Regions from separate parts of the Homo sapiens genome. Here region 2 is reported to be linked to region 1. Evidence: microRNA targets listed by miRTarBase, many of them from high-throughput screens and not tested one by one. Region 1 holds a microRNA gene; the other region holds the end of a gene's coding sequence.

What was found. The annotated mature microRNA hsa-miR-593-5p reads AGGCACCAGCCAGGCAUUGCUCAGC and lies in region 1 at 1,133-1,157, opposite strand. An mRNA with a match to its seed (bases 2 to 7 or 8) in the 3' UTR can be bound and repressed. Matches are read on the target gene's strand: a 7mer-m8 pairs with bases 2 to 8, a 7mer-A1 pairs with bases 2 to 7 and ends in A, and an 8mer does both.
Region 2: miRTarBase lists MIPOL1 as a target of hsa-miR-593-5p. Seed matches in the 3' UTR shown: 7mer-A1 at 1,134-1,140.

What each region holds. Positions count from the first base shown.
Region 1 is chr7:128,080,033-128,083,032 of GRCh38, reverse strand. MIR593 (microRNA 593) reads right to left here and starts at 1,172; the gene lies at 1,073-1,172. SND1 (staphylococcal nuclease and tudor domain containing 1) reads right to left here. Exons shown (of 24, transcript NM_014390.4): 18 at 1,532-1,673.
Region 2 is chr14:37,546,387-37,549,915 of GRCh38, forward strand. MIPOL1 (mirror-image polydactyly 1) reads left to right here. Exons shown (of 13, transcript NM_001388067.1): 13 at 519-3,529. The coding sequence ends at 585. Among named protein-coding and RNA genes, the nearest start is that of FOXA1, 47 kb to the right of the region's middle. RefSeq lists a silencer at 458-752.

The sequences.
Region 1 (3,000 bases):
GGGGCCTTCCTCTCTGGAGCCCACCACAAATCCCCAGGTGGCCTGCCAGGAAGGGCCTCACTCCCTTCTCTTCCAGCATTCTAAGGACACATGGTTTTCTCTTTTCTCTTGTTTTCTGCCTCAGATTTCTGCTCTCTAAGACTTCAGGGGCTTGTTCTGAGTCAAGGCGGGTCCTCCCCAGCAGGACCCAGAGGCTGAGTAGAGCCTGCCTGGGAGTGATCGCATCCTTTTGCTCAAGTTCTCTGGTGGGCTGGCGGGGATTTTGGGGTGGTGGATTCCAGCTGGTTCCTCTGCCCAGGAACGGCTCTTGTTCCCACTGAGACCACCACTACAAGACTCCTTCCCTGTCACATGACCCAGCCCTAAAGGCTGGCCACCGCCCCGGTTCATTCAGGCAACTGCTGGAGCAGCTTTCAGCAGGACTGTGGCTGACCTCAAGAGAACCTAATCCCGCAGGCTCGTGGGCTCCATCTCTACCCCTCCCCCTTGCGTTTTTCCTTTTTCAAGCACAGCCAGCCCAGGGCCAGGAATGGTCAAGTTTTTCCTGGTGAAATGACACTGCCACAAAGGCAGCTGCCTGGGAAACAGCATTAGAGGGAAGTGGCTGAGACGGGGCTGGAGCGGACCTGGGGTGGGCTGAGGAGGCTGGGCAGAGCTGTGTCCTGCCATCTGGGGGACTGCCCAAGTGCTGCTGACACTTCTAGCCCCCTCTGTCCACCTGTGCCTACCATGATTTGTTTCCTGGGATCCAGAAGCAGCTCTAAGAGCTTTTCCTTCCGCTCCAAACTCAACTGTTTCCCTGCACAGGGTGGCCATGAGAAAAGGGAGGTCAGGGTGGAAAGCGTAAGCGGTTGGAGGTGTAGTCGGGCTAGCGGCTGCCAGAGCTCTCTCCTGCCCTTTGGCCTCCAGAAACCCCAGGTCTCTGCCCAGGGGACCCTGGCCACAGTGCACACCACTCAGGACGGAAGGAGGAGAAGGTCCTTCAGAGACTGCCCGGGGATGTCTTCCCCTAGAGCGCTGCCTGTTTCCATGGAAACTGGCTATCACTCAGGGCTATGTTAACCTCTAGAGAAGGAGAAACCCCAGCAGAGACAAACCCAGCACCACTCCTTGCTCCCCCAGAGGGAAACGGGCTGAGCAATGCCTGGCTGGTGCCTGACAGATTCTGGGGGCTACAAATCATCCTGCCCAGCATAGCCAGGGGTATGTAGGAACAAACAATCACCTAAGAGACTCAGAGCTCCACCCAGATAAACCTGGTTATCTCACCTGCGTCCAGAGGACCTGTCCGGCAGCACCTCCATGCCTGAGCCCAAGCCAGGGCTCATGTGAAGGCTCCTGAAGTAACTCCAAGCCCAGAGGAGCAGTGGGACAAGGCAGGGAGACAGGGGCGGCAACGTGAGCTCTTCAGGGGAGGCTCCTGGACTGCCTAGGCATTGTTCCTCCCACCCACTGGGCAGAGGCCCCCTACCCCCAGGCAGCGCCAGCTGGACCAAGCCAGGAACCACGAGCCAGCGGCCTGAGCACTCACCGGTCTCCACATCCTGCACGTAGAAGTGCAGGTCATCAGTGATCTCAGTCACAAACACGGGCTTGTAGCTAGCAGATCGCTCCTTCTCCTCCAGCACTGGCATCACCTCCTCCACGGGCTGCTCCTCATAGTGGGCCCAGACCTGCATGTTCAGTCGGCAGAGGTGAGAAGAGGGCGAGGAAGTGAAGTCATAAAAGACACTGGGAGGCCAGGCGTGGTGGCTCATGCCTGTAATCCCAGCACTTTGGGAGGCCGAGGCGGGTGGATCACGAGGTTAGGAGTTCAAGACCAGACTGGCCAATATGGTGAAACTCTATCTCTACTAAAAATACAAAAAATTAGCTGGGTGCGGTGGTGGGCGCCTGTAATCCCAGCTACTTGGGAGGCTGAGGCAGGAGAATCGCTTGAACCTGGGAGGCACGGGTTGCGGTGAGCCAAGATCATGCCACTGCACTCCAGCCTGGGCGACAGTGCAAGACTCCGTCTCAAAAAAGAAGAAAAAAAAAAGACACTGGGAAAGGGGTTTTGGGCAAATGGGATCGGCCCTGGGCGAGTGACTGTGGGGCACTCGATTCACACCAGGCTGAGCCCCTGAAGCCCTCTATCTCGGAGGGGAAAGGTGAGTTCTCTAAAGTCCTGATCTAGCAGTTCTCAAATTCTGGCAGGCATCAGAACCAACAAGGGAATTTATTAAAAATGCAGGCCCCAGATCCTACCCCAGGCCTACCAAATTACAATCTGTTCTGAGCATCCCAGAGAGTAAAAAAGAGCAAAACCAGATCCCAGGCTATCTCATGCACGTCCGAGTGTGAGAGCCCTGCTTTCATGAACTCTTTGGCTCTGGGCTCCTCACACCCGCACCTCTCTTGCTCCAGCTCCCCATCTCCCTTCCCCGTGGCACTCTGCAGGGCACTCTGAATTCTGCAGGACCTCCTGCTGTCACAGGGCTCCTGGTGCTCCTGAAGCAGTCCAAGCCACAGCCCTAGGCTGGGGAAGAGCTCACCAAGAATGCTTCTGCTCAGCAACTTTCCCTTTCTCCATCCTCCTCACCTCCAGCAGGTTGCTCTGACCTCAGCCCAGAAGCTGGGCCATGCGCTCTCCACCCTTCCCTCTCTCCCTTCCTTCCCCAAAGCCCTGTGCTGTCAGGGCTGCAGTGGCTCAGAAGCTGATTTGACGCGACAGCGTGTCAAGTCCAATCCTGCAGCCAGGAGATTATCCAAATGGTGAGGTCTGTCAGAGCAGGGGAGGGAGGTGGCTTTCCAGCTGAGCAGCAGGAAGGGTGGGTGGGAGAGTGCAGAGAATGGATCACGCGTGGGGTCCCACAGACGCACACAGGAATAAGGATGATTAAAAGTATTTGCCCAAAACTTCTGTGCTTATTAGGTGCCAGGTACCATTCTAAACATTCTCCAAATATTAATTCATTTAGTCCTTACAACAACCCTTTGAGTAGGTCTTGGTATTATCCC
Region 2 (3,529 bases), not on the chromosome of region 1:
CTAACCACTATTTCTGGCTTTATGTTTATCAGCTGATTCTATGAAAAGATGGGAATTTAGTACATAGAAGTTACACAGTATACCAACCAATGAATCACTTATCTAAGTAACAGGTGAAACATTGCTGATATTTGTGTTTTGAAATATGTGCTTTTCTTAGGTAAAATCAGTTTATTCTACATTTAATATGTGATCCTGTCATTGCATAGTAAATGATTCATTCACAACCTTAATGCAAGTAGCTAAATGTATTGAAATAAGTGTCCTATAAATTTTGTGTGGCATCTAATGCTGACATAATTCAAGGATCTGGGTTAAAGTTTGTGTCGTTGCTGGGTTTTTTAACCTCAAATACTTGGCACTCTGTAGCAGTGTCTCTCACAGTAATGCTTTGTTTCTTAACATGACCGTGAGGACTGCTTGGTCACAGGCAAATACTGTCCTTTATCAGCCAGGACATTCTTAACAATAATTGCCCTTTTTTTCCCCTTCTCACCCCCATCCCAACCCCAACTTAGGTTGGAAAGGCTGGTGGATGTACTGAGGAAGAAGGTTGGAACCGGGACCATGAGGACAGTGATCTGATTGAAAAAAAACGACAGTCTGGGGAAGCGATCACATCTGGTGACCAGGCTGCTTCATTCAACACTGTGTAAACACCAAAGCCTTAACTTAGCAAACAGTTGTTAGAAGTGGGACACTCCAACCACATTCCAAGCTGAGATAAAATCAAATCACAAATGTTTAACCACTTTGCTGCTGACTTGAGTTATTTATCCAAATATATTAACTATAGACTTTTACCAATGGGTAGCTATAAGGTTACAGCTTATTTTGTAACTATTTTATATCTCAATATCTTTAATATAAATCTTTTTACTGAGAGATCATTATAGAAACATGTTAAAGTTGGTTAGGATCATATCTTCACATATGGCCCTTTCTGAATCAAAGTGCGGCAAAGTAAATATTGTCTAAGCTTTAATCCACTGTGTTAGGTCAAAACTTCAAATACATGCATTTTTCAATATAGGGTATATTTCTTAACTGATGAGAGAGGCTTAGACATGAGTGTGTAGTCTTCCTTCAATGCGTGTATGTAATCTTTGTTAGTATAAAAGATATTAAATATAGGTGCCAAGAATTAAATGTATAATTTGTTTAATAAGAGATGGATATATTAAAATTACATTCATCAAGGCATGATTTTTGTTTCACTACAAATAATGCAAACTGTTTTCAATAAAAAGAGGAGACTGTTAATGTGTACTTATAAATTCACATTGTCAGTATTTTTTAATATTGGGTCTGAATAATTATCTGAATTCTACTTAAGCTATAAGTCTCTGTCATTTTTGCTTGAAAATTAGCATGCCTCTGTCTTAAAAGAGACCATCAAACCTATTAAGTATTCTTATTGTTTATCTTTTTTTAATTGCCATTTGATTTTTATTGTGGAGGAGGAGGATCTAATATATAATATTCAATACAATTGTAATGTAGAAATATAAGAATTTAGAAAAAAGTAAACTTGCCATTTGGTTAAGGTTACCTGCTTTTTATTTTATTCCAGAAATAAGATAGTTACAGCATAGCAGTCATATGAAGTTATGAATAGAACTGAGATTTTTATGTAATTAGTTATAGGCAAAATACTTTCATATTTTTAGATTAGACAGACGAAAGACCAAGAGGAAATGACTGTGCCTGGAACAGGATGAAATAGACAAGTAGAGATTTAATTAGCAAAAATTTTGTAGGGAAGTAAAATTTTTTCTAAGTCTATACGTTTTTAATTCATCTTTAAGATTGAGCTAAATTATCTACCATTGCCTATTTACAGGATAAGTACATTCAGGACAATTTATTGTACCATTCTTTCATATACCATAGCAGATTATCCATTTCAATTTTTTTTTACTCCACAGGAAAATGTAAGCTACTTTGTCATAGATCACAAAAGAATCATAATGCTAACAAACTCTATTTCTTCCTTATTAAATCTGTATCCATTAAAGTAACTTTTTTAACTATGAGAATTAGAAAATAAGGGACAACAGGGGTTAAAAATAAACTGATTTAATTTGCTCTATAGTCCTAAAGAGAATTATATCCTCTCATAGACCAATGACTCTATAATAGAGAAATATGTAATGATTTGGTCATGCATGGAGTCTTGTCTCTGGGCTCTATTTGAAACGTGTAACAGCTCCCTATGTGAAGAAACATTATCTTTAAAGTCATCTGGGAGGTGCAGGTAAGTAAAGAGAAACAATTTTTGTCACAAAGTAGTCCATTCCTGATCTCACTTAAAATAAATCACAAGTAAATTTGAATTTTCGGTTTAATGTTGAAAGCAGATGAACTTTTCTTGAGTTATTTTGTCTTTTAGAATACACAAAATATAGTATAAAGACATTTCACAATTTCCAAACAAATCTTTCTACGCTTAAATGATCAAATTAGAAAAACCAATTCCTATAATTAATATGCAGAACTTTTATAGAATATGATATTATAAAGTTAAATTTGCAAAATAATTCTAACATCCACTATTGTTCAGTATAGGTAATCTCCCAAAAATATCACATCCTCTTGAAAATGAATTGTCTACAAAATTTCAAATGCAAAGTATTACAGCCAAATATTATCTTAATTAATTTCTTACACTTAAAAGTGTCCATCAACAGTGTGTCAGATGGTCTTTATATATTTTTTCTGTATGAAGGAATAGCCTTGCCTACTGAAGATAGGTTCTCTATGTATTCAACAATAATGCAACTTTAGAAGTATTCCACACTGCTGAGAAATGTTGCTTTGAGTTTGCTTTACACATCATCAACTCTAAATCCTATAGTAACATGAGAATTCACTTCTTCTTGTAAAAATAAGTAATTTACAGGAAAGGCAAAATGCTAATACTAACATTTGTAGCACTTGATGATTTACAAAGTCCTTTTACATCTGTTTTTTCATTTGATCCTATCGACAATCATAATAATAATAAATTATATATATAACCCATATAATAACGATGGTGATGATAATTTTAGTATTACTGTCATTATAATTATTATTATATTCATTCTACAGATGAGGAAACAGACTCAGTAAGCCTTGGAATTTGCCAAGGACTGGCTAGGACCTAGAACTAAGATCTTATAACCACACTCCATGCAACTATGAGTCTCTAAATCTCTCTGTAAGAAAAAAATTTCAAAGTAAAGATTTTACTCTTGCAATTTCTGTTGTGATAGTACCATCTCTTTCACATACTACATACAAATTCCCTAATAATCAAAAGATTGTACACATTTTTTTCAATGAAGTACAATAATGTGAACTGCATGTGTAAACAGCATCACATTATTACCACCTCTCTATGGTATTATAGTGGCAGTATGCTTTGCCTCAGCCTTCACTAATTAGGAATATTGTGACAATTCATTGCTAATAAAACATAACATGAGTCTCTTTGTACTGTTTTTAATTTGGCCTGATGCTAAAACCTATCAGCTTAGTTTTTTAA